4 linked regions of the Homo sapiens genome follow. The main gene of each other region encodes a partner of the protein of the gene in region 2 in a complex. Each region holds a gene or a part of one and is shown on either strand. Other genes may lie near its edges.

Region 1 (6,430 bases), on a different chromosome or scaffold from region 2:
GATAATTGGTTGAACTAAGCAACAGTGATAGAAGGAAAAGAGAAAGATTTGTAGTATTAGCAGAATATGAAGATCAAAGGAAAGTAAGAATCTGAAGTTAGATTGGTTGACTAGGAGACTTTCAATACAAATTAAATATTAAAAAGAGGAAACAGTTGCCTTTGAGTTCTGTCATTGAAACAATGGCAGAGAAACCCAGTGGAAATACTTATTAGAAATAGGAGGTTTGAGAGGTCAAGACTAGGTGAGAGAAATTGGTAGGGAAGATAGGTGTATTTAATTTGGAGATGGTAAGGAATTGCTATTCCCAATCTTTAAAAGTACTTAAGGAATACTTTTAGAGTACAAGAGTTTACAAATTGAGTCTTGAACAAATACATTTCTGCTTACTTAAGGTGCTTTTCTGAGCAGCCTCTTCCTCACTATTTCTTTACACTTGTAACTACTCCAGTCTCAGAAAAGGAATCATATACTTTGTGCATGAGAAATAAATTTTTATTAAACATGGTGCCATAGATATTTACAAGTCAAATTTGCTCTTTTCCATCACTATCCCCAAAAAGTCTTTACTTGTGGCTTACAATAAGTATTGGCCAATATTCTCTTATCATTTTACTATCACAAGAAAAGAAAGATTATTTTGTATTTCAACTGTTTCAACTAGATTTATATCAAATTTAACTTTACCTAGATTGATACCAAACTTAGTTTCTTTGCAGAATTAAAACGTTTAATCAACATTAATAATAACTGGCTTATTTTATCAACAATCACTCCTTTCTGTTTTATTCCCTTGCTCAGAGATTATCATTACAGAAACTTATTGTTGTTGCCATTACCAATAAAGTCCTTAAAACTGATAAGTCCTTTCTAACCTTGATATGTTTTCTTTGGCCTAAGCTTGCAGATCAGTTTTGTAATGCCATTGGAGTATTGCAGCAATGTGGTCCTCCTGCCTCTTTCAATAATATTCAGACAGCAATTAACAAAGACCAGCCAGCTAACCCTACAGAAGGTAAACAGGTTTTCTTAGCTTCTCTTAGTTTGACTCTCACATTTTTTGTAATCCTTTAAAATTAGATTTCTTGAGAAATTCAGCTTATTTTATTTCTAAAATTATTGTTGTTTGAGAATATTACAAGTTTTGTTTGTTGTAAAAAATTTACAGTCAATTCACCTAACATCTCATAATTCTGGTTCATGTCAGATAATAGATTGTTACTCCTTTAGAGGAGAATTTGTATTAATTTAGCTGAGTGAGGGACCTTAACAAGGAAGGCATCCCATTTATAAATTTCTTTATTCAGGTGACCACTATATTGTCATAATAAATGAAATTACATACATTATGCTTAATTCCCAATTTGAGCTAAATGTGTAACAGGATTGGTGTATATTTTAATCATTAGAATCTTCTTTTTTTTTTTGAGACGGAGTCTCGCTCTGTCACCTAGGCTGGAGTGCAGTGATGCAATCTTGGCTCACTGCAACTTTCGCCTCCCGGGTTCAAGGAATTCTCCTGCCTCAGCCTCCTGAGTAGCTGGGATTACAGGCTCATGCCACCACGTCTGGCTAATTTTTGTATTTTTAGTAGAGATGGGGTTTCACCATGTTGGTCAGGCTGGTCTCAAACTCCTGACCTCGTGATCCGCCTGCCTTGGCCTCCCAAAGTGCTGGGATTACAGGCGTGAGCCACCACGCCTGGCCGAATCATTAGAATCTTAGGGCAGAAAAAGCTATATGAAGTTTCTGGTTTCATTAACTTAAAATTTGTTTCTGAAAACTTGAGGTTTTCTAATATCCTAATCTAGCAGTATCTTTCTCTAGAGTATGCCCAGCTTTTTGCAGCACTGATTGCACGAACAGCAAAAGACATTGATGTTTTGATAGATTCCTTACCCAGTGAAGAATCTACAGCTGCTTTACAGGTAAGCCTCTATTCCTTTGAGAATTTTACCAGTAATAGAGAATTTTGAATTAAAGGAGGTAGATTTAGTACCTTTTGTCTGTGTCCATTTGTGCTGCTATAACAACATACCTGAGACAGTAATTTATAAAGAACAGAAATTTATTTTCTCACAGTTCTGGAGTCTGGGAAGTCCAAGATCAAGGCATTTATTACTCACTGTGCATGAGTAATGAATTTTTATTAAACATGGTGCCATGTTTAGGGCCATGTTGAGGGCCTTCTTCCTGTTTCCTCACATGGCTGAAGGCAGAAGGGCAAAAGAGCAAGAGCTCCCTCTTCAACCTCAAGCCATATTTTAAGGGTACTAATTCCATCTATGAGATCTCTGCCTTCATGACTTAATATCCTCTTAAAGGCCCCTTCCCTCTTAATACCATCACATTGGGGATTAGATTTTAATGTATGAATTTTGGAGGGGATGCATTCAAATCATAGCACCTTTTGTTATAATATTCAAATTTCCATTATAAGGAAACCTCTTATTTTCCTCAATTTTGTCTCTTTTCCTAGTGAAGAATGAGAGGAGGGTGGCATTCTACAATTGGAGTAGAATAATGGTGTCTAAACGTAATGTGTAAGGGAGTCACTTAAAGATATCTAGAGATCTCTAATTGAAAAGTCATTCTTTTTAATAATTCACATGGGGAAAATTCTTAAAAGTTGTCTGATTTTTAGAATTTCTTTACTGAAAAACATATCACAATGATTGCAAAGTCATCCAGATTTAAAAATAAGTACATCTGTGACAGCTTCTCTTTCTAAACTCTAAAGATTTTAAAATTTGTGTCTTATAAAGGCTGCTAGCTTGTATAAGCTAGAAGAAGAAAACCATGAAGCTGCTACATGTCTGGAGGATGTTGTTTATCGAGGAGACATGCTTCTGGAGAAGATACAAAGCGCACTTGCTGATATTGCACAGTCACAGCTGAAGACAAGAAGTGGTACCCATAGCCAGTCTCTTCCAGACTCATAGCATCAGTGGATACCATGTGGCTGAGAAAAGAACTGTTTGAGTGCCATTAAGAATTCTGCATCAGACTTAGATACAAGCCTTACCAACAATTACAGAAACATTAAACACTATGACACATTACCTTTTTAGCTATTTTTAATAGTCTTCTATTTTCACTCTTGATAAGCTTATAAAATCATGATTGAATCAGCTTTAAAGCATCATACCATCATTTTTTAACTGAGTGAAATTATTAAGGCATGTAATACATTAATGAACATAATATAAGGAAACATATGTAAAATTCTGTTATGACATAATTTATGTCTCCATTTTGTTGTATTGGCCAGTACTTTTACAAATCAAAACATCTCTCAAGCCAAAGGAGAAGACAGTAAGAACAGACATAAGGGACATTTTAGTTTGGGCTAGTGTCCTGCCTCTTAGAGGTGGCATTGTGTAAATCTGAGCTTTGAGCAAGAAAGTTTTGGAAATTGTGTTGCTTTTAAGAAATAGAGTTAGTGTGGCTGGATAAGAAAGTCACATTTATGCAAATGTTTCTTCTGCTAGAACCTCATACCTGTTCTAGTTCATCTCCACGTTTATTTTACCAAGAGATCCTCTGTCAAGAGAATTTCCTGGCTGTTGTGAAAGAATTTTTCTACATCCTGAACTATTTTTCCTATTTCTTTTCACCTTGCTTTTTTTCATCCTTAATTTGCTTGTCATCACAATGAAGTATGTTTTTTGAATCATCAATTCTTTCTCATTCTCCATTTATCTGAAGGTTCTTTTGCCCTTATTAACCTCTCAACTTTTATTGCTGTATTCTAGTCAGACCAGAACATACTTCCACTACATCAGTTACTTGGCATCATTTCACCTCAGTTTATTATTGCCAAATAATAATTTGTGTCAGCATTTTCAACTATGGTTATTCATCCAACCCTTGGATCTCTTTGAGTCTACTGATAATCTCCACTGGAAAGGTGGAATTGAAATGTGGTCCACATTTTAACTAGCTATTTCCTGGGGCTGTATTTTTCAGAATATGCTGAGCTACATTTGCTGCAATCTGTTGCTATTCAGAGTTTAAGTTTCAGGAGAAAACAGGAACAATAGAACACTCTGCCTGTTATTTTTGTTGTAATCAAGCTTTTCCACAGTTCTTGAAAAGTACTATGTTTCAAATTTCAGGAACACCAGCGTTAGCTGTAAAAGTTGCAGCAATTTATTGGCTAGTCATAGAAAATTTTTGAACTTTTAACTGTATTTTAATTGATGTTTATTAAAAACACTTTGCTATCAGATATTTGGCATAAATCTGTACTCTTCATTATAGTTTTGGGGGGAGAGAAGATTCAGTCAGAAAACTTATTCAAAGTACCTAAGTATTATAAAGGAGTCAAAAAGGTACAAAGAGAAAAGGTCAAGACATTTTTCAAATGAGGGAAAACTAACAGGATTTATCACTAGTAAACCTGCTCTAAAAGAATTCAAGGGAAGCTTTTTAAAAAGAAGGGAAGTTATAGCAGAAGGAAACTTAGAATGGCAGGAATAAAGAAGGCATAATGTATAGGGTAAATATAATAGACTTCTCTTGAGGTTTTAAAAATTACATTTGTTATTTGAAAGAAAAAAATTAACGTTGTTGTATGTGATTCTCTGTAGAGGATATACAGTTTTTTTTTGTTGTTCTTGTTTCTGTTTTTTTAAGGTGAAGTCTCTGTCACCCAAGCTGAAGTGCAGTTCTGTGATCATGGCTCACTGCAGCTTCACCCTGGGTTCAGGTGATCCTCCCACTTCAGCCTCTTCAGTAACTGGGACTACAGGCATGTACTACCACGTCCAGCTAATTTTTTTTTTCTTTTTTTTTTAGAGATGGGGTCTCACTCTGTTGCCCAGGCTAATGCCAAACTGCTAACCTCAAGATATTAATACTATACAGTAGACTATAAGAAATTAAGTATTTGTATCATCCCTAGAGCGACACAGATTTTTCCCTAAAAAACTACAGATTATTTTCAAAAGCATTAATAAATTAAGGTGGAATACTAAAAAAGATTCAGGTAACCCAGGAACGAGAAACAGAATAAAACAATAGTAAACCTAAATTTTATTTTATTTCATTAATACAGCAATAATTAAATGTCAATGATCTAAGCTGATTTAAATCTAAAAACTGGATAAGAAGCTGTGGCTTGTAATTAAAAATAGACCTTTATTCACTAGACCTACAGTTTGCTTTTTTCATATGTTAAGAAAAGTTTAATATCCTGCTTCTCTATTTCAGTTCTAGGGGCACCACTATCAGTTAACCCTAAAGATTTCTGTGGGTGAAACCATTTTGATTACCATCTTGCTCTGCTGCCAGTTATGGTAACCAAACTCTCTTTGTTTCTGGATGCTAAATCTGTCCACTTGTGCCTTAACTACATCCTAACTCCCGTCATCTTCATTGAATTTAAGGAGCCAATTTCTTTTTTTGAGATGGAGTTTCACTCTTGTCCAGGCTGGAGTGCAATGGCACGATCTTGGCTCACCGCAACCTCAGCTTCTCGGGCTTAAGTGATTCTCCTGCCTCAGCCTCCCGAATAGCTGGGATTACAGGCAGGCACCACCATGCCTGGCTAATTTTGTATTTTTAGTAGAGACGGGGTTTCTCCATGTTGGTCAGGCTGGTCTCGAACTCCCAACCTTAGGTGATCCACCCGCCTCAGCCTCCCAAAGTGCTGGGATTACAGGCATGAGCCACTGCACCCGGCCAGGAGCCAATTTCAATGGGAGTATCCTTTACTATCATTCCTGACCTGTGATATTGGCCATTAGAGCCTTTCAAGAATGGTACCTCCTGCCGATGATTTTTTTTAAAGCCTTAATGAAGAGAGTGTCCTCTGGATCCTTCCAGAGAAGATAGGATGTGAGTGAGTAAGTTATGTATAATAATTTCACCCCAAAATTTCTATGTCCTTGATACCATTCCCTGTATACCAAGGAAGGGTATTCTGGCATTTCACTTTGATTTAATATAAGTAAACCCTGTGTCTGGGCATTAGTTAACAAACCAAGTGACTACAAGTGATAAGTAACTTTTACCATAGACTGTCAATTACCTTGGCAATGGAAACATTATTGCTTTTTAATCCAGTCAGATCAGAGAACAAATTCCAGATTTCCATCCTTAAGATTCTGTGTCTCTGCTACCACTTCTGGTAGCAAAACATGTCAGTGTGAGGTAGAGTCAATGGAATGTAGCCATGAAAAAAAAAATGCTACTACAAACATTACAGGAATAAGGAATTTGATCGAAGAATTAGCATTTACACAAAATATGGGAGGAGTTAGGGAAGTGAAAGAATGAAAGGAGAAAGAGGATAAAGAAAACACTAACCACATCACCCTAAAGCCCTTATTGCTAAATGAGGTTATTGTAGTGCCAGTTAAGTCCAGGTCAGCCAAGGCGTGCGTACCCCTTGGCCCCACTTGGAAAGCTGTGTGGATATGACTGT
Region 2 (8,578 bases):
TTCTTTTTTTTTTTTTTGAGATGGAGTTTCGCTCTCGTTGCCCAGGCTACAGTGCAATGGCACCATCTCGGCTCACCGCAACCTCCACCTCCTGGATTTAAAGCAATTCTCCTGCCTCAGCCTTCCGAGTAGCTGGGATTACAGGCATGCGCCACCACGCCCGGCTAATTTTGTATTTTTGGTAGAGACGAGGTTTCTCCATGCTGGTGAGGCTGGTCTCAAACTCCCGACATCAGGTGATCCACCCGCCTCAGCCTCCCAAAGTGTTGGGATTACAGGCATGAGCCACCGCGCCCAGCCCAACAACTATATTTTCAAAACATCATTTCTAAGTTCTCTTCACTTTCAAGATGTAATTTATCATAACTAGAAGACTTAATAATTTAAGCAGCTAGAATGGTGTTTTTCAAAGTGGGATCCAAGGACCAGCTGCATGAAAAATCACCTGAAGTGCTTATGAAAATACAGCGTTGAGTCCCAGGCACCACCCCAGACCAACTGAATTAAGAGTTGATGGGCTCCAGACTGGGTGCTGTGGCTCACACCTGTAGTCCCAGCTACTCAGGAGGCTGAGGCACAAGAATTGCTTGAACCTGAGAGGTGGAGGTTGCAGTGAGCCAAGATCACGCCACTGCACTCCAGCCTGGGCGACAGAGCAAGACTCCATCTCAAAAAAAAAAAAAAAAAAAAGAGTTGATGGGCTCCAGAATCTACATTCTAACAAGGTCTCCAAGTGATTCTTCCACATTAACATTTGAGAATCCCTGAATTAGTTCTCAGAGCATCCACACTCACATGGAGCTTCAAGTCCTCATATGAATCCTCCTTGAGTCTGAAGTTCATTACTCTCAGAGTAGTCTGGCAAGGAAGACAAAGTAGAGTTTCGGGGTCAGGGACCTGGATTCAAATCTGATTCTATCATTTGCTATATAGGTGACCTTGGACAAGTTACTTAATTTTTCCAAGCCTCGGTTTCTTTATTGATAGTATGTGGATAAGAATATCTTCATAGGGATGTCGTTGCAATTAAACAGGAGAGGAAGGCTATCATTCTTTGGAATATTTATTGAGGTCTACATACCATTTATACCAAGATGAATAAAACATTACCAGGCACTGTGCTGCATACCATGTATACCAGGAAGAATGAAGCATGGTCCATCTCATTAATTTGTTGCTTTGTCTTTTTGTGCCTGTCCCTTTGTGATTAAGGTCTGATTTGTTCAGCCTTTTCTAACCCTTGTGCTGTCTTTTGTTAACACATTCCCACAAAATAATGTGGATTATTTCCCCTCTTGAACTGGCTAAAATCTTCTTACCACTATACATCAAAGTCCTGAGCCTCTAGCATGGCCTCAAGCTGCATCTTCTCCAGCCTTATCTCTCACCAATCCCCACGCAGTTAAAAGCATGTATTCCAGTGTTAGAGCACTTAGGATCAAATGCTTGCTCTGCTGATTATTAACTATATAGTTTTGGCAGAGACTTACACTCTCTATGCCTCAGTTAGCTCATCTGTGAAACACAGATAATAAAAGTGCTTATTTTCAGATAATTTTTGAGTATCAGATGATACTCAGTAAGCATTCAGTAAGTGCTAGCTATTCTCATTGTCAAACTGCATCCACACAAGGAGTTGCTTCCTCTTAGTTCTCTGAAGGCTCCACTGGGCTCCTTCTCACCTGAAGATCTTCACTATTCCCTTTGCCTGCAATGCTCTCTGCCTCTTCTTTTAGAAAACTTCTACCTATTCTTCAGGCTTCAGCTTAAATGTCATTCTTCTGAGTCTTCCTATTCACAACCCCTTGCCTCCCCATTTCTTAACAAGGTAGGTTGAGAACCACTGTTAAACACCCTAATTCACTCCTTTACAGCACTTATTATCCTAATTCAATCCTTGTTTACTCCATAAAGATAGAGAGCATGTCTGTCTTACACGGCTCTGTATCCACCCTGATACTTAGCACAATTCTGACTCCTACCAGCACTCGTAAAATATTTCAAGTGTGTGATGAATGAATGATTTCCTAAATCTGACTATACCCAATCTTTCTCTCTTGGGATCCTAACAGCCTCTAAAAGTCAATAACTTTATTACACCCAGGGGCAGAACTCTTCAATCTCTTTACCTTCTGATAAAATTTTCAGAAATGCAAATCAGGGAGTTAAAAAATGCTTAACTTAGGCTGGGCACGGTGGCTCACGCCTGTAATCCCAGCACTTTGGGAAGCCGAGGCAGGCGGATCACGAGGACAGGAGATTGAGACTATCTGGCTAACACGGTGAAACCCCGTCTTTACTAAAAACACAAAAAGTTAGCAGGGCATGGTAGCAGGCGCCTGTAGTCCCAGCTACTTGGGAGGCTGAGGCAGGAGAATGGCGTGAACCCGGGAGGCGGAGGTTGCAGTGAGCCAAGATCGCACCACTGCACTCCAGCCTGGGCGACAGAGCGAGACTTCGTCTCAAAAAAAAAAAAAAAAAAGCTTAACTTTTGGCTGAGACTCCCAGGATTGTGTGTCTTGACTTGAAATTACTTTAGATCTGTACTGCTCTATATGGTAAAGACTACTATATGGGGCTACTGAGCACTTACAATGTTGCTAGACCAAGATGGGATGTGCTATCAGTGTAAAATACAACACTAGATTTTAAAGACTTGGTACCAAAAAAAATGTTAAATATCTCACGATGTTTTGTATTTTATTACATTTTGAAAATTTTGGGAGTTTTGGGTTAAATATATAATTACATTTTATTTCATTTGTTTCATTTTTTTTTTTTTTTTTTTTTTTTTTTTTTTTTTTTTTTTTTTTGAGACGGAGTCTCGCTCTGTCGCCCAGGCTGGACTGCAGTGGCACAATCTCAGCTCACTGCAAGCTCCGCCTCCCGGGTTCACGCCATTCTCCTGCCTCAGCCTCCCGAGTAGCTGGGACTACAGGCGCCCGCCACCACGCCCAGCTAATTTTTTGTATTTTTTTTAGTAGAGACAGGGTTTCACCGTTTTAGCCAGGATGGTCTCGATCTCCTGACCTCGTGATCCGCCCGCCTCGGCCTCCCAAAGTGCTGGGATTACAGGCGTGAGCCACCGCGCCCGGCCTTGTTTCATTTTTTTATGTGGCTATCAGAAAATTTAATATTACACATGTGGCTTGCTTTAGATTTCTACAGGACGGTGTTGTCCTAGACTATCTGCCTAAAAGGTATGTTGCATTTCCCCACAACATCCCTCCACCTCCTTTCACTTTAATCTATAATGAAACATCCTCTAAACTGTTTCATAGTTTTTCTTGTGTTAATATTTCTGATTGATCTTGATTGATATTTCTGATGCATGAGCTATTCTACCACCTCTGTGAACATGACTATTTTAAATAAGGCATAGTTTCCTACCACCATATTCAATGTTGGGTCTTACCACACCAAATCCCAGTGAACTGGAGATTTACCATTCTGTGGCTACTTTATTACTTATACCATGAACAATATGGTTAAGAACACAAGGACTGGAGCCTGGCCATCTGTTTTGGAGTCCTGACTCTAATACTTAATAGCTGTGTAACTTTGTTACTTTTTTTTTTTTTTGAGACGGAGTTTCACTCTTGTTGCCCAGGCTGAAGTGCAATGGCATGATCTCAGCTCATCGCAACCTCCACCTCCCGGGTTCAAGCGATTCTCCTGCCTCAGCCTCCCGAGTAGCTGAGATTACAGGCCTGCGCCACCATGCTTGGCTAATTTTGCATTTTCAGTACAGACAGGCTTTCTCCATGTTGGTCAGGCTGGTCTCGAACTCCTCACCTCAGGTGATCTGCCCACCTCGGCCTCCCAGTGTTGGGATTACAGGTGTAAGCCACTGCGCCCGGCTTACTTTGTTACTCTTAATATCTCTGTGCCTCAGTTCCTAAACTAAAAAAAGGAGATGATACAGTGTCCACTTCATAGGGCTGAGGATTAACTGATATTGGTAAAGAGCTTAGAATGGTACTGAGCATGCAGTATGTATGCAGTAATGAATACTATTTCTATCATTATACACATCTCTCACCCTTCCCACCTACTGATATGTTGGCACCTTTCCTGGTGGTGGTGTTTTATCCGAATCTGAGATTTTAAGCTCAGATCTTCTAACTCCAAACTGCTAGTTCCTGGATGAGTGGCATTTGAGTAAGGTACTAAATCTTTCTCATTTTTCAGTTTTCTCCTCTGTGAGAATGCCACCTTCCTTGCACAAGTCTGAATGACACAACATATATAAGGTTCCTTGCATGTTCCTTAGCATTTAACGAATATATCATATCACCTTTCTGGTTTATTACATGTGATTCTCACAACACACTATAAGACAGATATTTTATAAAGAAGGAAACAGGATCCGGGAAGACTCGCCTGAGGTTGCACAGATTAGCTACATGACAGCGCCAATATTGGAACGAGGTCTCAGTCCGACTCAAATGTTTTTTTCATGAAATTAAAGCTGCTTTTCTAAAAGCATGAGCCCTAGAACTAAATAAATTCATGCTGTTTATGGTATTCCAATGCCTAAAGAAATGCAAAAACCAGCAAAGTAAATCTACTGCCGTGTTGCCCATTGAAACTGCAACAGAAAGTCAAAATACAAGTTTTGTTAACACCGCTATAAGTCTTAGAGACGACGACGCGGGTGACATGTCAGTAAACAAAACAAAGCGAACAGTTACTCCTTTAGCTCCCCGAGGAAACTGCGGACCGCGTCCCATACACAGTCCGCAGGGGTACCATAGTCGGGCCTTCCGGGCTGGGCTGGTCCCTGCCGAGGCTACGCAGCCCGGCCACCCCCAGACCTAGAGGAGGCCAACGCCACGCCTGCCCGCCGGACCCTCCCCCTCGGATCTCGGGGCCCAGTGCTGCGCCCGCCCGCCCCTCACCTCCGGCTCCGGGCGCTCCGAGGCCATCACACAGCCCTCCCGCGCCGGCCCGGGCCAGTGAGGGTGTTCCACTCTTGACCCCTGACCTCGCTACCTCGGCACCCAGCAGGAACCGGAAGTTGGTGGGAGGGCCGAGTTCCAGTTTTCTGATTGGTGGACGAAGCCTTCTCGTAGGCGTTTGCTGACTGGAAAACCGGAAGTGAAATCGTGGCAGCCGCCTCGGCCGCCGCAATGCAGGTGAGAGTTGCGTTGGGCGTACTAGCGGCTGGCAAGCTTCGGGTACAGGGACCGAGAGTGGGCTGGCTAAGGAGAATGAAGAGTTGGGACTGAGAAGAGAGGGCAGAACCCACGGCTGATAAGGGAATGTGGGCTGGGGGGCGAGGCTAATTGGAGCGGGAGCGGCGGCGATTAGAGGTGGGGGTGGAGCTTGCCTGACAGGAGACAGTCGGGCTAAATCCGGAGGGAGGAGGCAGCACCTGTTTGCTTGGCGTGGGAAAGGATTAGGTTGTAATACGGGGAGGCTGAGATGCAGTCCAAGGAAGACGGCTCAAGAAGGTGGTGGGTTGGCTCAGGCCCTGTCCTAAGCTGCTGGATGGAGGCTGTTGGTTGCCGATATAGCAGGGGATCTAATTGGAAAGAAGCCCAAGCAGTGAGGGAATTGTGGGCCGCGATGGCTGAAAGCTAAGCAGCTTATAATCAGAGGCCATGGTGGAACCCGGGATCAAGTTTCTGTCAGGCAGGTTTGCAAGACAGTTTTGCATCCCTCTTCCCAGCCTGTGCCCTATAGTTGTTAAGGGTGAAGAAATGGAGTAAAACAGGAGACCACCGATGGGAAGGAAATGCTTTGCAGACCCCCAGCATTTTAATTTGTTTGTCCAGTGCTTAGAAGCATGTGTGGTTTTTGTTTTTCATTTGTCACTTAGTTTCTTGCAGCTGGTAGTCTCAATAAATGTTAATGGGTTGACTGAGCTTGTGAAAGAGGCACGGGAATATTGACACAGAGATAGATGATTGCATATTAATTCAGCAAGGAGAAGGTTGAAACAAAATGATGAGAGCAGATGGAAAGCTGGAGTCGTTGGTTGGGGGAGGGAAAGGGGAGAGCAGGACTGGTGTTCAGAGAAGTCTTCATGAGTAGGCAGATTTCCCAGAGACTGACAAGACAGCCAGGCTCACAGATGCTAGGATGGAGGAAGCTGGAGTGCATGTGCTACAGAGGTGCACATGAGAGAATGATCTCCTGGCATTAGGTCTGTCGAAAATGTCTCAGTGAGGGAGTGTAGGGTGTACCTAACACAGAGAAAAACCAGGCATAGATTAGGAGGTGATGGGGAAAAGGAATCAGTTGGTGGAAGGACTTGGGGTCAGGCAAACAGGTTGGAAGGTCTCAGGGTTGATGCTGTCTATAACCCAAATACCAAAGATAGAAAACAACCTGGCTATCCTATGCCAATGAGATCCTGTGTTACCTGACTGGTGTTGCACACCATCTCCTTGGCTTTCCAGCCCTCCTTTCTATGTGTCATACTCGTTTATCTGGGTGACCAACCTGTTCCTATTGGTGCAGAGAGAGGAGAAGCAGCTTGAGGCATCATTAGATGCACTGCTGAGTCAAGTGGCTGATCTGAAGAACTCTCTGGGGAGTTTCATTTGCAAGTTGGAGAACGAGTATGGCCGGCTGACCTGGTAAGAGTTACCAGGGCAAGCTAGGAAGGGCTTATGGGTGGGGGGGCCTAGCCTCCTGATGAATAGGACATTTCTAATGATGTAACCATTTATCAGTTTGCAAACATCTTTTGATTTGGAAAGAGCTGGGTTTCCTAACATTTAGCAAGTGGATTCCATGGCAAGGAAGTAGAGAAATGCTCAGTTTCCTAACCCAAGTTCTTTCTAGCTTTCAATTCTTACCCTTTGACTTCTCTGGTGAGGAGGTCCTCCCACTACAGCTCTATTCGTGCTGGATCTCTTGCCACAGATGTGGCTGAGTCTTTTAGAGCCAACCTACTCTGAAGTGTGGATCTTATTTCCAGGCTGGAAAGGAGGCTTTTACCCGGTTTCTGAAGTTTTAGTTATAACAGTGTAGCCCTGGTTCCTATTTTGCCACTGTTCCTCACCCCATTCAAACAATGAACTGGGTTTTTTCTACGTCTGTTTCATAAACTGAAACTATGTCCCTCTTTCATAGCCCTGTCATCCCTGTTAGTCTGTTCCCACTTAGGCTAGTCATAGGGCTATGAGACTTTTGGAGGTGAATCCAAGTGTTCCTAGCCTGAAGGAACTAGGACTATTTTACTAAGAACCACCCAGGGAAGGGGTACAACATTCTTACACCTTGTTACCACCACCAGGCCATCTGTCCTGGACAGCTTTGCCTTGCTTTCTGGACAGCTGAACACTCTGAACAAGGTCTTGAAGCATGAAAAAACACCGCTGTTCCGTAACCAGGTCATCATTCCTCTGGTGTTGTCTCCAGACCGAGATGAAGATCTCATGGTAAGAGGAGAAAAAGAATACAACTTGGGAAATTAAGGGGTTTTTTAGGCTTCTTTAGTATTTAGGGAAATTAAGTTATTAGCTGAGAGCCTAGAAATAATTTTGGAGGCCTTGCTTTTTGTTCTTCTGAAGGCGGGAGAGCCACTCCCAAATAGTGCTGTAATAACCTGAGGGGTATGTCACCAAGGCTGATACCTTTCTTCTCCAACATCTGTCTCAAGCCACAAAGTTTGCCCTTTTGTGACTTTGTCTATTCCAGTCTTTGAAGCGTGGCAGACAGTGATAGTTTAATTTGCCCCTAGGTCTGGTAGAGATAGGGATGTGAGAAGACACAAAAAATGAAGGATGGAGTAAAGGAGAGTGTGTCCTAGCAAACTAGATATTATGTCTCAGGTTGTATTTTCCTTGAAAATGCACTGTTTGCCTGTGGATGGGACTTTATGTCAGGCCAGATAGAATCTTCTTGGAGTACAGAGTAGGATCAATAAAATCTGTGTGTTACAGCGGCAGACTGAAGGACGGGTGCCTGTTTTCAGCCATGAGGTAGTCCCTGACCATCTGAGAACCAAGCCTGACCCTGAAGTGGAAGAACAGGAGAAGCAACTGACGACAGATGCTGCCCGCATTGGTGCAGATGCAGCCCAGGTTGGACTGAGTCACTGCCTTGCTGCCCCATCCCCATCCCATCATGAGAAGCTAGGCATTACCATTCCTGTCTAGTAGGGATACATAGTTGGTTGCGCCTAAGTTGCTTCTGGCAGAACCCAAGGAATAAATTTCTCCATATCGTTTCCTAGTTACCCTAATCTCTGCACAAATTTGTGTGTTACAGAAGCAGATCCAGAGCTTGAATAAAATGTGTTCAAACCTTCTGGAGAAAATCAGCAAAGAGGAGCGAGAATCAGAGAGTGGAGGTATGATGGGACTGGTGGCTAAACAGAGAAGGAGAGGTATATAAGATCACTGGAATGGGAATGGTTGTTTTGGAAGTAGTGAAGTTAGGACACAAGGGTGAACTGCTTTGGGGTTTGTATCCATTCTGTTAGCCTTTTGTATTTAAGGCCAGCACTGAAGCAGTGGAGGAAATGGGCAAAGTAAGAAGAGAGAATTCTGAGATAGGCTTGGGGGTCCTCTGGCTCTTTTTCTGGGCTGTGAGGGAGTCTAGATGTTGCTGAATTCAGAAC
Region 3 (7,814 bases), on a different chromosome or scaffold from region 2:
AAAAAAAAAAAAAACCAAAACTGTTGTCCAAAGGCATAATAAAATCATATATAAATACAGCAAACCTTTATAAGTCAGCAAGAAATATGGTAATTTCCTGGAAAATGCTGAATACTTAAAATAAAAATGCTGAATACTTAAAAATAACTAAAACTGAAAATACCAGTAACTTTGGCAATAGGATTATTGCCTTATCTTGTCCACCATCATCTTGCAGCTTCAGGCCCTGCCACTAGTGGAGAATCACTCAGGGAATTTCTGCAAAAAATGCATCCAAAGGTAGCTGTTTGAATGACTGCCTTAAACAGCTCCTTGAATAAAGTATTAACTTTTTCCAAATTGTAACATTAACTTATGAGTAGCAATCCATAAATCTATCTTGTTATATAACAATCATTTTTCTAAAGAAACAATTAAGATGGATGGCATTTCTTTATTTCCCTTCTGACTTTTTCTCCCTGCCCCAAATGAACTGATACACAGTGAGGGCTGAGAACCACTGAACTAAATGAACACATCTTACTTAAAACACACACATACACCCCAATAACAACAAAAAAAACCCTCTTAGCACAGGTGATTCATTTTTAGCAAAAATATATTCTTATGTGCCATGGACCTTAGGGTCACTTAAAAACCAAAATTCTTTATCTTTACAATATCAGATCATTCATTGAAATTTTTGAAAATTGCTACTGAAATTTATAAAACAGGACAATAGCCAGCAGTGAAAAAAAAAAAAAAAAAAGATGGCACAGAATCAAACTGACATGAAACTACTATAGTTCTGAATTCTGCCCTGAATTTCAGATGAACTTACCTAATTCTGTCAGCTTTAAATTTATGGTATATGACCATATGTTGAGAGATACCTGTAATATACCTCCACTGCATTAGGAAAAGTTACTAATCAGATTAGTGATTTTTTTAAATGAGACATTCTCAATCAAATCACAAATTTAAAAAATAAAATTAACATGGATCATGAAGTTTTGGAAGAAATGTTTTAAAAACTACAAAACAACATAATCTAAGAAAAATATAGTAAGTATGATATATGATTAAATGACATCAATAATTAAAGTCTACAAAGTACCTGTTTGGAGGTGGTTTTGGTTTTGGCATCTTACTAAGAATGGTTGCCATCTCTTTTCTCTCATCGAAATTCTTCCACTGCTCATATAGTTTTAAAATAACCCTGATTATTTCCAAAATCTAGAAGAAAATATTTGAAAAGTTCTCAGTGGCAAAAACAAGCAACATTTTTTATATAAAGAGCATACATCACTACACAACCCTCAGAAAACAGTAAATAGTCTCTGTCCTTAAATCCTGATAAATTTGAAAGCAGTATTTTTCACCACAGTGCTGTTTAGGATTTTCCTTCTAGCATCTCATTTTTCAGCATGTGTGCATTGTCCATTCTTATCTATCTCTGCAGCTGATTTCCTTCCATCTGATGGTATCTTTTAAACTGAAACATACTAAGAATAAAGGTTCTAATCATGAGGGAATATACCACTATAGAGCACACTCCTCTAGTATAAATTATTTTAAACAACTTAATCGGGGGTAGTGCACAAAAGATGTTTTGATTCTCTGTTACTACACATACATTAAGGTGCTCAAAAACTGGCAGCTACAAATTTGAAACAACTAGTTAACAAATTAGCTATTTTTTTCCCACCTGAGTAGAACCTAACCTTAGGATTAATTTTAATGCATTTAACACTTGAGCAGAAAAGCTAGAAACACAGCAAAAGCCATTCTGCCAGGAGATAGGCTATGTTACAGAAGTTCACAGTAGTATTCAGTGGTTACCAGGGAGCTTTTAAAATAATCCTGGGAATGAGAGGCTACTTTGCAACCAATTAAACCAAAAGTTTACCATTCTGTTTAATCCTAAACTGAAAAGAGATACATAACTTAAATAATCAGCATTAACTCTTCCTACCAAACTTTTTTTTTTTTTAAACGGAGTCTCGCTCTGTTGCCCAGGCTCGCGTGCAGTGGCACGATCTTGGCTCACTGCAACCTCTGCCTCCCAGGTTCAAGCAATTCTGTCTCAGCCTCCCGAGTAGCTGGGAGTACAGGTGCATGCCACCACACCCAGCTAATTTTTGTATTTTCAGTAGAGACGGGGTTTCACCATATTGGTCAGGCTGGTCTTGAACTCCTGACCTCAGGTGATCCGCCCACCTAGGCCTCCCAAAGTGCTGGGATTACAGACACAAACCACCATGCCCAGCCCATGTTTCTTAATATTTTGTAACCAATAATCTTCTTAGCCTGGTGGACATCACAAGATTTTAGGCTCATGATAAGTAAATATGACATTAATTTTTAAACATCCAAGTTTACATACAACTAAGGGAATACCTTTTCCATATCCACAGAAAGCTCAGCAAACCATTGCCTGGCATCTTTCTGCTGTACAACACAGGCTACATGTAGGCAAGCTGAAATGAAAATGAGAGACAACTGTCCATGTTTAACTGCAAACACAGAATATATGATCTAACAAAGATTTTTCACTATTTCCTGTGTATTTTCCAACACTCTTTAAAAAACATTAAACAGCTACATATGAGAGTTACCACTGACCATCTCATCAATGTAATCCGAGACAGAAAAAATTACTAGATTACATCAAGTTCTTGACATCTGGTCCTCACTGCGTGCTAGTCATGGTGCAGTTGCCTTGAGAGTCAGGCACGTTAAAGAGGAAAAACATCCAATGAGGAGAGCAGAAAAGGGAAGTTATCCCTGAGTAGTGTACAAAGTAGCCGTTAAACTGCACCCAGAAGTCAGTGTGACAAAACAAAACAAACAAAAATGTTAATTAATATACTAGGTTTTAACAATGTTGACTGTGTTTCCACATTTCAGTTAAAAGCAGTGTTGCCTGGCCTTTTTTCTTCCTTTTCATTATTAGCACATGATCAAGTTATGTGAAAGCTGGGCACATCCTTACAGAATTCAGTGTTGTAATCAAATAAAGGTTAGAAAATAAATGTAATATACTGTATACAATATTAGTTATATATGTTATATACAATATAAACTAACAAAAGAGAGGAATCTACATCATAATTTTGCCTAAAACAATTTCTACTGAGCAGCCTGTATACCCTTAACCCACTCCAGCTTAAGTTATACTCCGTGGTCTGGTTATCCATGTCTTTGCTAAGGATGACATTCTAGGCAAATAGCAACTCAAATGTGAACTGACACACTGGTTGCCCTAAGTCAAGCAAAGCTATGAGTAGGGCTTAGGTCAAGAAGAGGTTAAAAAAAACCAAATGACTGACATGATAAAAACAGGAAATTAAAATACAGTGGACAATGCTATTAACATGGGCATGCATAGAGTACACTGAAGATTGAGGAAGCATCCTAAACCCAGACTGAGGTGATGCTGAAAGGGTGGGGGAGGGTCACTGAAGAGCTGATATCTAAGCCAAGTCTTACAAAAAAAAAAAATGAGAGTGGGAGAAGAGAATAGTATGTATATCAATTGGGAGACGAATTTGGCTAGCTCCGGGTTTCTCAATCTTGGCACTACTGACATCTTAGGTTGAACAATTCTTTGACACTGTCTTGAATACTACAAGATGCTTGGCAGCATCCCTGGCTTCTACCCACTAGATGCTAGTAGCACCCTACCCTAGTTATGACAACTAAAACCAAACATTGCCAAATGTCCCCTCGGGGCAAAATTATCCCCAGGTGAAACCACTAGCCTAGCTCAACAGTTTGGAAGATAGACAGGCTCTCTGAGGATGGGAGTGCTGGAGGCTAATAAGCCAGTTAGGAGACTGCTGTGGTAACATGGATAGAAATGAGAAGATGACTATGAGATTACAGAAGGAACAATCGAGAGGAAGGCACAAAATGTACTGGTAAACAACTACATGTGGGTATTGAGGGAGATGAAAGGGCCTAACTGCTGGGTTTCCAACTAAGGTATATAACTAGTGCTATTCACCAAACTGGCAAAGACATTAAAAGGAGGAACATATTTTGGGGCAAAGTGATAAGCTCAATCCTCATCATGAGTCTGAGGTGCTGGTGGGATGCCAAGCGGAGCTATGTAAAAGGAAGATGGATATAAAGAACTGCCAAGTGGCAAGATCTTGGCTAAATAAAGAGATTTAAATGTTTCGGCATGTAAGTGATAGTAGAAGCCATGAATCTCAGTTAAAGTACCCAAGAAGAAGACAGCAGGGATGGCAAAGATGTGACACATGTTCTGTTATCCCTTCCTTCCTACCTATGCAGATCCCAGTATTCCTACCCACTGGGTAGGACACCACTCAAAATCCTTTCAAATCCAGTCCTTTCAGGGAACTGCCAGTAATACAGAAGTGTAAGTATAACCTATTTGTCAGCCCTGATGTAAGAAGGCCAAGAAACATCAACATTTAAGGAATAATTGAACAACTGAACAAAGACAAACCAATGGAAAATAAGAGGGGAAAATCAAGAGGATGGAGTTATAAAAATCAATAGAAGGGGCTGGGGTGCAGTGGCTCACGCCTGTAATCCCAGCACTCTGAGAGGCCAAGGAGGGTGGATCACCTGAGGTCAGGAGTTCAAGACCAGCCTGGCCAACATGGCGAAACCCTGTCTCTACTAAAAATACAAAAATTAGCCAGGTATGGTGGTGGACACCTATAATCCTCCTGTAGGCAGGAGAATCGCTTGAACCCAGGAGGCAGAGGTTGCAGTGAGCCAAGATCACACCACTGCACTCCAGCCTGGGAGACAGAGTGAGACTCCATCTCAAAAAAAAAAAAAAAAAAAAATCAATAGAAGGAAAAGGAACAAAAATTAACAAGTGCCCAATATATAACAGGCATTATTTGGTGCTCTACAACCTATCTCATTTAATTCTTCAAACGGCTCAGTGGAATTATTAGTATTCTCTCCATTTTACAATTAAGGAAACAAACACGGAAAGGTCAGATAATTTTCCCACAATTGTAAAGGAGGTAAAGTTTAAGCCTAGGACTATCTGACTCCACCCATTACAGCACTGCTTTCCACAGACTGTAGAATGAATGTACTTAACGTCTTCCTCCAGCCAAGCATTATGGACCACAGATGCTCCTTTACTCAACCTCTGAGTATTTGTTTGGGCTCAGGATATGAAAGCCCCAATTATTTTACATGCTACAACTAATATTAGCTGGCTTAATTCTGAACTTTTCCCTCTAAACAAACAAATATGTTCTATTCAGACACCGATTAAAACTATTTTGAATGGTTTCAAAAAAAAAAAAAAAAAACTTACCAAAAAGGGGGTGGGGGAATAATAATCCTGATTTATGACAGTTGCAGTTCATATTATTGAAAGCTCACATGCAAGGATTAGTCTATTACTTCATGGAACATAAAAACATAAAGTACAATAGGGTGAAATTTAGTTTAGGATGACCTAAATAAGTTTATAACAATTTAACTCATAAAGGCACACCATGCTTACATACCTAAAGCTATCATGAAAGGAGGATACAGTAGGCAAAGATCCGTTCTGTAGGTATCATTCACTATCCTCCTATAGAAATGTAAATCATATTATTACTGAAAGCAGAACTACCTCATCTGATTGTATATTTCCTCCAGAGAGGGCCAGATTTCCCATCTTTGCACACATTTATTTCCTTTTATACTACTGAAGCACAGCTATAAAAGTGAAAACATCAAGGCAAAAGGATGGATACATGAATGTGACAACAAATAAGCACATATCAATGAATAAAATTACAGCTAAATATATTTTAAATTTCAAAATCTCATAACAAATTATAAACACATTTTTCTAATTTTTTAAAAATCAGAAAAATCAAATTAAAAAACCAGAAATTATACAGTAAATTTATATGTATGTTGCAGACTACCAAAAAGTATTCTGATTACTTTAAAGATAACTTCAGTCTTAATTTTTATGTTAACAGTCTGTGTTTTGTATAAAATTAAATTTTAATAGGTATATTTATGGAACAGATAATTTAGGATTGTTTTCATTTTGGCATTTACACCACTATAGTTATTAAAATTCAACAAGTGGTATTTTGCTCAACATAAAATATCTTGGGGCAATAGTTTAATGACTTTAAAAATACTTAACTTCATATTTAATTGTCAACCTTCCTATCTAATAACATGTTACACTATTAATAACTTCTGTTCTAATTACCATGCAAGGGGAAGCAACATGTCTTCTTGGCCCATGTCCTGCACATACTGGAGCAAAGGTCTATAAGGATGATACACTATCAAGCAACAATCCTAGAAACAGTTTAAAAAATGTGTATGTATAAAAAACAGATTTATTACAACACAAAAATGTTATCATTACCCAACTGATTTGTAATTGTGTATTTCAAAGTGAATTTCACTAACTCATGCTTGCTTCCCTTTTATTCTCTTAAGCTAGCAGTATGACAGCCCTAAACTCTACCGTAATAGTGAAGGCAGTGCTCTCTCTGGAATATACCTTGATAAATCGGTTGGCAGTCAGTCAGCATCCATTCATTCCCTTAGAGACTCAAAGTGTCACATCTGCAACACACTGAAACCTCTTATTAGCCTATAAATTCATAATTCCCAACTGGAGGAGCAGAATTCTGCCAAAGACATAATCTATCTTTAAATAACACTGCACGCACACACAAATTGTGCACATAATTTATGGTGGTTTAATGTCCTGACTTGTCTGTTTGTAATCCTTTCATTATAGTTACTTACTATAGAACAGAAAAATTTTCCCATCCTAAGTAGGATATACAAATTATTTTACAGGCTTCAGAGAGACTCTAGGTGCTAATATAAATAGGCTACCATGATTTCACCATCACATATTAGGTGGATGGTTTTAAAATGTACCTCTCTAAAATCATTTCTTTAAATAATTTCCAACTTCATTTAATTTAAAAATGTTTTAATCTATTAATCACAGAAGATTTACTTACCATTAGTTCTAACAGATAGAATTCACATTCTAATATCTGTTTAAAACAAAGATTATCAATGAAATGTCAATATGAAACCAAATTAGATAAGTCCACTTAATCTAACATAAATTACAGACATTATAGTAATTTATCAAAAATTTTTACTAAAAAGTTTTAAAAATCCAGACAATAAACATAGTTTATATTAAAATAAATATCTGCAATAAAAAATTACTATTAGAAATGCAATTATGATTATAAGGATTTTAATCCTTGTAAGGAAAAGCCAGCTTCTCACAATCATTCTTATTACTCACTTTTATTTAAAATATCCTGTAAAACCATCAGATTTTCCAGTATACTTTCTACTCAGCAAATGCAAAAATACAATTATTTCTACTTAATTTAAAAAATGTAACTTAAAGAGAATAAACAAATCCCTTGCAAGGTGGAAAAAGGACATACCTATTAAAATGTCAATAGAAATTCACCTTATATTTCATATTGTTCCATTAGTTTTTAATCCCAGCTAAATAGTAGTATCACCTGGGACCTTTTACACAGTACCAATGTTGGGAGCCCCAAGGCTGAAAATTCTGATTTTGTTGTTCTGGAAAGGATCCAACATCAGTATTATTTACAAGTTCCCAAGGTGATTTAATGAGCAGCCAGGGTTGATAATCGCCACTATGAAGTATTTTTTTTAAATGGTAAAAGCTATTTAGCTTTAATTTAGAATAATGTCTGTATTTATGTAATATTTGAAACTGCCATTTCTAGGAAACTATTAAATTTAGTCTAATATAAAATAGAGCTAGTTTATATATAGCTTTGATAATTGTTCCATTTTATATC
Region 4 (7,814 bases), on a different chromosome or scaffold from region 2:
CCAGCACTGGAAGAGAAGTGAGAAGAAACAGAGAAGATAAGGGGGCTAGCACCCTCCTCTTCCTCACCATCACCTCGAGCCTCAGTTATATTCAGAACAATGACGTTATTAGCTGTAGTAGATTCTAAAATATTTGACTTAGGAGTCAGGAGGAAAGATATTCTTCTACTAAATTAGAGAAAATAATTGATAATTTAGTATCAACAATAATAAAAGGGGAAATGGATTACTCTATATAAAAAAGTTTAATGGAAGAATTGTTTAAAAGTGGAAAAATGGATAGGTGCGACTTTTTAAAACCATGGAAATCTGTTTCCAAGGATTTTCATAAGACAGCTGCAAAAGTTTCTTAATTATTACTTTTATTTGCAAATATCAATGTTTTGTTTATATGATAAGTAGGAAAAAATGGAACTTAAATAAAAGCTTTTAAAAACTCTTTAAATGCTCCTAATTGTAAAAATATTTTCACAAAATACAGAATGCATGAAGAGAAGGCCAATCTTCAGTGCAGCCAGAGGCACAGGGAAACACAGCTGAAGCCCTCAAGGACCGAAGTCCGCTGCAGGCACGGATGGGATTCACTGCCTTCTAAATGCAGATGACTTTAGTCCCAGCAGTCGCCCTGGGGAGGGATTTCTAACCTAAAATTTGAAAGTTGTCTGAACTCCATGCAAAACTGTGCAAGCACGCTTGGACATACGTATTTTTTTCTCAGGATGGAGGGTTCATCATGCAAATCAGATTCTTAAAAAGGTCTGCAGAAAGAGCTAATGACGCTGGAGGTGATGTGGTGTGAATCTGCACAGCTGGATTCCTGAAGACTCTGCCTCCCTCTTACCCTTCTAGCTGATGAGGGAAGGGGCATGGAAAGAAATCTAAGATTTATCTGCCAACTAAATTTGAAACACAGGATGATTAAGGATTCTTAAGACATTTTCAAACGTGTCCCTAAATCAGTAAAACACAGGTTGCAAAGTGGTGGTCCACAGAATATTTTGTTAAACTTTGGAACAAATCACTCCAGGAAATTTCACACACAAATCTAGATTGCCAGCTTCCCTTGAACTGGGAGACCCATATTCCTGCATAACCACCACTTGCTGGAGCTGAGGAGCAGCTGTCCCTCTCAGGCACCTCATGGCCCCTTCCCTGCTGTCTGTCCTGAGTCTGATGCAGTTTTCATTGCCTTTTATCTTCAGCCAGTGCTTCTTTTTACATATAGTAAACAACAACAGTGAATACTTCTTGTATTAATGGCTCTATCAAAAGCAGGAAATCACAGACCAAGAGAACCACAGATTTGAGGAAACTAAAAGCAAGCACGTTTCTTATGAACCCTATTCCTGTGCCTGCAAAATAGAAAGTGAGTTTTGAAAAGACAGCTTAAGGCACTGCCTTTTGCAAATGTCTCCCATCACATTCATTTACATTATCTGGTACTTTTAGGCATCTTAAAATTTGAAACCCAGACCTCCCCTGCAATAAAATGTCTTATTTTTCATCCTGAAAGACGACACCACTGATTCATGCACACAGACTGCTTTTCTGTCCGAAGGCCTATCTAGTAAAAGGACTCACCCAAGCTGATCATCCACATTTCTTTAGGGGAAAGGCTGCATTTTCTTCACTTCATAAATTCATTCAGTAGAAACTGATTAAGGGTCTGCTTAAGTATAAGGCACTGTGCTTGAACCTAAGCAGTTATACAAATGAGCATAACCCTTTAATGCTTTCTTAGTCATCTCTACCTCCATGAAAGCTTCCTTGATTGGCCTAGTCAGAAAATACCCATCACTCCCCATACTCTACTGACCTCTGGACATACTTTTAATTACTTCAGATTTCAAACTGTATTTAAGAAGCTTATATAACTTTCTTCCCTGCAAGACTGAGAGTTGTTCAGAAGCCGGGTTCGCACATCATTCACACAACCCTTCCAGTCTGGCCTCTGCTCCCACCACTCTACAGAAACAGCTCTCACCACGGTCAGAAGACATGTTTAATCCTTATCTTAAAATCTTCACTTGCATTTTAATGCCTGTCAATCACTTCCTCTTTCTTGAAACACTGGCTACCCCTGGCTTCCAAAAGCCCCCTCTATGGTTCTTCCTTCTCTGCTTGATAGGCTCACGCTTCTCTGCCTCACCTATACCCGTCAGAATGTAGCTAAGCTCTACCAGGTCCTCTTCTCGTCTATACTTTTCTCCTCCTCCTCAATGAGCTCATCTGTGCCCCCTTAATTGAAGTTATCACCTATATGCCAACCACTCCCTCTCCCCTGAGCAAAAGGCCCAAGAGTCTACTTGATACCTCTACCTGGATATATCAAAAGGGATCTTTAAAACTTCCAAACTTCCACAACTCAATTTATAAACTTTCTCTCCAGATATAGTCTTATCTTTGAACACCACTGACTATCCAGGTATACAAGTAACAAATCTGGGACTCCTCAACATCTCTCTTTCCCTTATCCCCAAAACTCAACTCACTATTGAGTCCTGCAATAATATTTCTTCTCCACCTTCTTCACAAGGACACTAAGGCAAGCTATTGTTTCTTACTAGGTCTTCCTCACTAACCTCCTTGTCTCCCCAAATCCATTCCTGCCACTTTCTAATCCATACCCAGAATTATAGCCAGTGCACATTGTTATTTTTCCTTTTTAACTACACAAATCTGACATCAGTGCTTCTTCTTAAAACCTTTCAATGACTTTGTATTGCTTTTTGCAGGAAGACCCAACCCCTAGCATGCCTCTAAAGAGTCACTGTAATCTAGCCCCTGCATGCTTCTAACCTCGCGTCAGTTTCTAAAGGCCCCAAGCTCCATACAACCAAGGGCCTTCCCACTTGCAGCACCTCCTGTCTGGGACACATGCCTCGCTCCCCATTCTCCTTCCTCAGTTAATGTGTACTCATCATTGAGATCTCTGAGCAAATGTTACTACTTCTACAACGAAGTCTTCTCTGACCTTCAGCCTAGAGTGCCCCGTCTATCCCATGCTTTTATCACTTATAAAATGGGTTGTAATAATATGCGTGCTTGTGTAATTATTTAATTGATGTCCACTTCCAGAATAGATTAGAAAGTCCATGAGGGTAAGTGCCTTGTTTCTTTCAGTAACCATTTTATCCCCCATGATGCATTGCAGTTTAGGCAGTGAATGAGTAAGAAAAGGAAACAGCAAGTTGCTTGGCACTCTTACAGCCCAACTTCACTGGAGCTTTTAATAATACAACCAGTTATATGCCCCAGTAACCACAATGCAAAGTAAAATGTGATTTTGTTATAAGTGATACAACAAAGGGGGAAAACAGAGAAGGGAGAAGAGACTCTGGAAATGGCTAGAAGGCTTCATGGAAGAGGTTCCTTGGAAACTTGATCTGGAAGAATGGTGGATTTAAGCATGCAAGAGTGTGCAAATTATCAGTCTGTAAGCTCCTGACGACTCTGATACTCAGCGGTCACAGGTTCCCAACATAGACTGCTTACTTATGAGTTACAAGAGGAAAATTTCAGAAAACAATTACTCTTCTCCAAAGGCATTTCAATATAAAACATTCTCCCAGTCCATAAGTTTAGGATAAAATCAATACAGCTCTCACTTTAGGTTCTTTTTTTTCCCCCGAAAGACATGAAATTAAAATTTTTTGTCAAATACAGTAAAGAAAGCTTTTAAGTTATGATCATACCAAGATACTCCTCAAAGTAAATTTGTGTTCTGGGACACCTACCATTGCTGTGAGGCCAAGAGTGCACAGTGGCACTTCTCACCAGAGCTTCGTCCACTTTTCCACCAGTGGGGTTATCCACATACTGCCGCCCCTGCTCCAACGCATTAAAGCATTCCGTCCAGTAATCATTATTATCTGCTTGCACCCGGTCATAACTCCAGCTTACACAGGGAAGAGTTTGGCGATTGTTAGAGGAAATGTAGTCCAGGAAATTCAGTGAAGCAAAAGGTTGTGTGTGTTGATTCTGGAGGAGGAGGAGAAGGCTTATGGGTGGCTCCTGGGGTTTTTTGGTTCCTTCCACCTGAGGAAGGAAGGTGGACTGACACATCATTAAGCGCCTCTCTGCAGCCTGACCAATATCAGAATTCTTCCCAAAAATATCCAACTCATCTTCAAGGAAGAGTCCTGAATTGTAGCCAAGTTTGCGGTTCATAATCGCACTAAACCCACAGGTACAGCGGTACTGGTCCTCATTGGAAGAATCGGGGATGTAAAGCCCGACATCCGCCCCTTTGATGTTCATGTTGCAGGCACAGATGCAACAGCTGTCAAAGTTTCTGTCTTTAAAGATATTCATCACGGAATCGGAGAGAATCAGGGTAACATAGAGGCTGTGGGCTTCGGGAATTGGCTGCATGGTGGCGGGCTCCACAGAGTTGAGGGGCCGTGTAGTAGAGGGGGTGGAGGCTGGTGATCCTTGATCGGTGCTATCATACTTAACAGACCCTTGACCACTGGCAGTGCCCCCACCTCTGGGAGTTCTTGGGGTCCTGGGGGTTCGTGGTGTGGGGACAGAGAAGCGAGGGGTTGCTGGAGATGGTAGGACTCCTGCCCCACTATTGCTGGCTGGGGCAGCGCTGTTCAACGTCACGGGTGTGTTCATCTGTGGTGTGTTCAGATAGTCTGGATCTGCTAGGCTCCCAACACTAGGCACGTTACTACAAAAAGAGAAGGCACCAAGTGAGGAAGGGCAGCATGTCACAGATGCTGAACTAGACACATGATCACCCCAGCCATGTACTGTGTATTTCTTATCATTTGTTTCTGCTATCACTGGGATACACTGGTATATTTAATTTTCTCTTAAAAAAAAAAAAGAAGATACAAAGGTCAGTGCAGTGTGTAGAGAAGAAGAAAGTAAGGTATGAAGAATAATTCAACACAGCACTTTCCTTCTACTTATTCCACATATAAGCATCCTCATCCTAACCTCTTGAAGGAACTTTTACTATTTTTATAAGAAAACATGGTACTGGGTTTGGTCAATGTAATTTGAAAAGTTAACTACTAAATGGAACTTCAACCATAAGTGCAGACACTAAATTAGCTAGAGGACCATAGGATGAAATTTCCATCTAATTTGCAATTACATTTTTGTCATTTTTTTTTTGAAATTCAAAGTCTGCCAGTGTACTTGTTCTCTGAGGCTATAATCTATATATCATATCAAAGTAGTTATAATCAAATACACATGAAAATTTAACATTTTTCTAATTTTCAAAATGCAGCCCTATCTAGGCTTACATTTTTATAGTAATGAGTGACCATGAGGGAATTATATTTTAGGTAGCCCATTTACCAGTACTATACTACAACTGATAGAAATATTACATATGCGGCTAAGAGGCCTCAGTATTAATTAGGTGGTTGCACAGAAGTACACATACTGTATCAGAGTTTCCAGCTTCCAGCAGCTTTCTGTGGGGTGGTAAGCACTTCATTTTTCACTTTTCAATATGGTATGCATTGCATATAGTGTAATTATTTTAGTTGCCCAAGACTGACTGGGCTATGTTATCTACTTTCTCATAAGCAGTGACTTCTTTTTGGAACAGCTAGGCAGAAAACACTGTCTGCAAGGTTCTGCTGTTTCATTATCATAAAACATTTTCTTGATATACAGTTGGCCCTCTATAGCCACAAGTTCCACATCTGTGGATTCAGCCATATACAGATGGAAAATCAAAATAAAAATACAATTAAAAAAAAAACAACAGTTAAAAAACACAAATCAAAACAGTAAAGTACAACATTTATATAGCATTTACATTGTATTAGGCATTACAAGTAATCCAGAGATGACTTAAGGTATACAGAGGGATTTGTGTAAATTACAAGGAAATACTCTGCCATTTTATATAGGGTACTTGAGCATCTTCAGATTTTGGTATCCGAGGGGGTCCTGGAATCAATCCCCCAAGGATACCAAGGGACAACTGTACTTTCTTAGATGTATATGTATATTAGCATATGAGTCCATTCTTCCTACTTAGAAGGTATCAAAAGAATATTTTTAAAATTTTTTAATATCCTTTTATATATATTAATACTGTACTTAAACTAATGCTCCTCCAATAAACTACATATTCAGTTACTTATAATGTGAAAGAAGCACGTCATAAAGAAATGTCTCTTCAAATAATTTCCTTGTGATTTTTAATTAGCTATGCCTAAACTACCAGCCTAAAAGTCCAAATCAGGCACTGTAAAGAAATATTAAATCTGAGGCACAGTGGTATCTTTGAGTACAGATAAAAAAAAAAAAATGACCCAGAAAACTTGATTGGCAATCACTGCTCTCTTAGAGACCAAAATAGTTAAGTGTGTAATAACGATCTTTACTCTAACTGGACTCCTTTCAAATTCTCCTGTTCAACAAAACCCTAAAATTATTACGCAGTTCAGATCAGAAAAGGAACTATGAGTACTAACTGAAAACCTAAAGAATTAAATTGCTCCCTGGGTAGTAAGAATGGTTTATCTTGTAATCTGATTTTTCCCATTTAATAAAAATGAACTGAGTAGCAACCCTACGCTAGAAGCTGGATAGTCAAAAGTGAAAAAGAGAAACAAAAGGTGGCTCATAAGCAAGTATGGCAGACATGAAGCAAATGATTGCAGGGGTATTGCATGTGACAAAGGAGGAGTCCAGGGTGATGGCGAGCAGAGACCACAGCAGGATTACACATATGCTGGAAACATACTGTCCAATAAGGTAGCCACCAGTCCCCATGTCCTAAATTTAAATTAATTAACATAAAACAATTCAGTCTTGGTCTCACTAGCCACATTTCAAGTGGTCAACACCTGCAGCAGGAAGCTGATGACTGCCATAGTGGACAGTGCAGACAGGAATCACCTACATGCCAGGTGCAGTAGCTCATGCCTATAATCCCAACACTTTAGGAGGCCGAGGCAGGAGAAACACTTGAACCCAGGAGTTCAGGACCAGTGTCGGCAACACAGGGAGACACAAACTCTACAACAAAATTTCATAAAAATTAGCTGGGTGTGGTGGCACGTGCCTGTAGTCCCAGCTACTCAGGAGGCTGATGTGGGAGGATCACTTGAGCCCAGGAGGTCAAGGCTGCAGTGAGCTGTGATTGTGCCACTGTACTCCAGCCCAGGTGACAGAGCGAGACCCTGTCTCCAAAAAACCCCCCCAAAAAACAAAAACAAAAACAAAAACAAAACCTTCATCACATAAAGTTGTATAATAGAGCCAGTTAAGAATACAAAGAATCTTTGGGATGGCAAATGAAAGATGTAATAGATCTAAATAATGACCTAAATGATTTAAACGATTACACAGCAAAAGCTTGCATGTGACCTTTTTGGGGAAACCTGTATGTATGAAAGAGATTAAACTGCTGAATGGGTTCTTAAAACTGCTATGTCATTTATTGGCAACTGTATGTGCTAAGCTAACCCCTTATGCGCCAAGGTGTTCTAGGTGTGTTGTGCCAGGATCTAGCTGAGTAAGCTAGAGTACAATCGGAGCACAGCAGCAGCACACCAGCCAGGCGCTCAGGGTGCTTTTCAGCACACTCTTTATACTGCTGGTGCATTGTTATTTCCACGGTACTTCTACAGTCATTAGTCGTTGAAGCATTGTGGAAGTCCTGTGCGGGAGGCAGAGCAGGATTACTCCATTTTAAAGGGAAGACCCACGTAAAATGGTCATTTAAGGTCATGCATATAATTTTTGCAAGGCAGGAATTTCAGTCTTATTAATACTGCAAGTGTAGCTTCCTAAGTCTAGGATTCCTCTGTACTTTTCTGTCACCGTTTTTCTTT

Evidence for each region.
Region 1: MED8 (region 2) and MED21 share a complex: the UniProt entries of both Homo sapiens proteins name them as parts of the mediator complex.
Region 3: MED8 (region 2) and CCNC share a complex: the UniProt entries of both Homo sapiens proteins name them as parts of the mediator complex.
Region 4: MED8 (region 2) and MED13L share a complex: the UniProt entries of both Homo sapiens proteins name them as parts of the mediator complex.

What each region holds. Positions count from the first base shown.
Region 1 is NC_000012.12:27,025,520-27,031,949, forward strand, and holds the end of MED21 (mediator of RNA polymerase II transcription subunit 21), read left to right. Parts: intron 1-900; coding exon 901-1,015; intron 1,016-1,827; coding exon 1,828-1,928; intron 1,929-2,765; coding exon 2,766-2,942; 3' UTR 2,943-5,154; downstream 5,155-6,430. UniProt on the Homo sapiens protein: Component of the Mediator complex, a coactivator involved in the regulated transcription of nearly all RNA polymerase II-dependent genes.
Region 2 is NC_000001.11:43,386,319-43,394,896, reverse strand, and holds the start of MED8 (mediator of RNA polymerase II transcription subunit 8), read left to right. Parts: upstream 1-5,096; 5' UTR 5,097-5,132; coding exon 5,133-5,138; intron 5,139-6,407; exon of another isoform or gene 6,408-6,468; coding exon 6,469-6,587; intron 6,588-7,249; coding exon 7,250-7,394; intron 7,395-7,898; coding exon 7,899-8,039; intron 8,040-8,226; coding exon 8,227-8,308; intron 8,309-8,578. Other genes in the region: KICSTOR complex protein SZT2, read right to left, coding at 4,902-4,928. UniProt on the Homo sapiens protein: Component of the Mediator complex, a coactivator involved in the regulated transcription of nearly all RNA polymerase II-dependent genes.
Region 3 is NC_000006.12:99,544,016-99,551,829, forward strand, and holds part of CCNC (cyclin-C), read right to left. Parts: exon of another isoform or gene 7,014-7,814; coding exon 6,978-7,013; exon of another isoform or gene 6,578-6,977; coding exon of another isoform or gene 6,554-6,577; exon of another isoform or gene 6,295-6,553; coding exon 6,203-6,294; intron 5,561-6,202; coding exon 5,493-5,560; intron 5,385-5,492; coding exon of another isoform or gene 5,374-5,384; exon of another isoform or gene 5,297-5,373; intron 4,370-5,296; exon of another isoform or gene 4,282-4,369; intron 2,460-4,281; coding exon 2,380-2,459; intron 1,216-2,379; coding exon 1,097-1,215; intron 259-1,096; coding exon of another isoform or gene 207-258; exon of another isoform or gene 1-206. UniProt on the Homo sapiens protein: Component of the Mediator complex, a coactivator involved in regulated gene transcription of nearly all RNA polymerase II-dependent genes.
Region 4 is NC_000012.12:115,987,283-115,995,096, forward strand, and holds part of MED13L (mediator of RNA polymerase II transcription subunit 13-like), read right to left. Parts: intron 4,676-7,814; coding exon 3,738-4,675; intron 7-3,737; coding exon 1-6. UniProt on the Homo sapiens protein: Component of the Mediator complex, a coactivator involved in the regulated transcription of nearly all RNA polymerase II-dependent genes.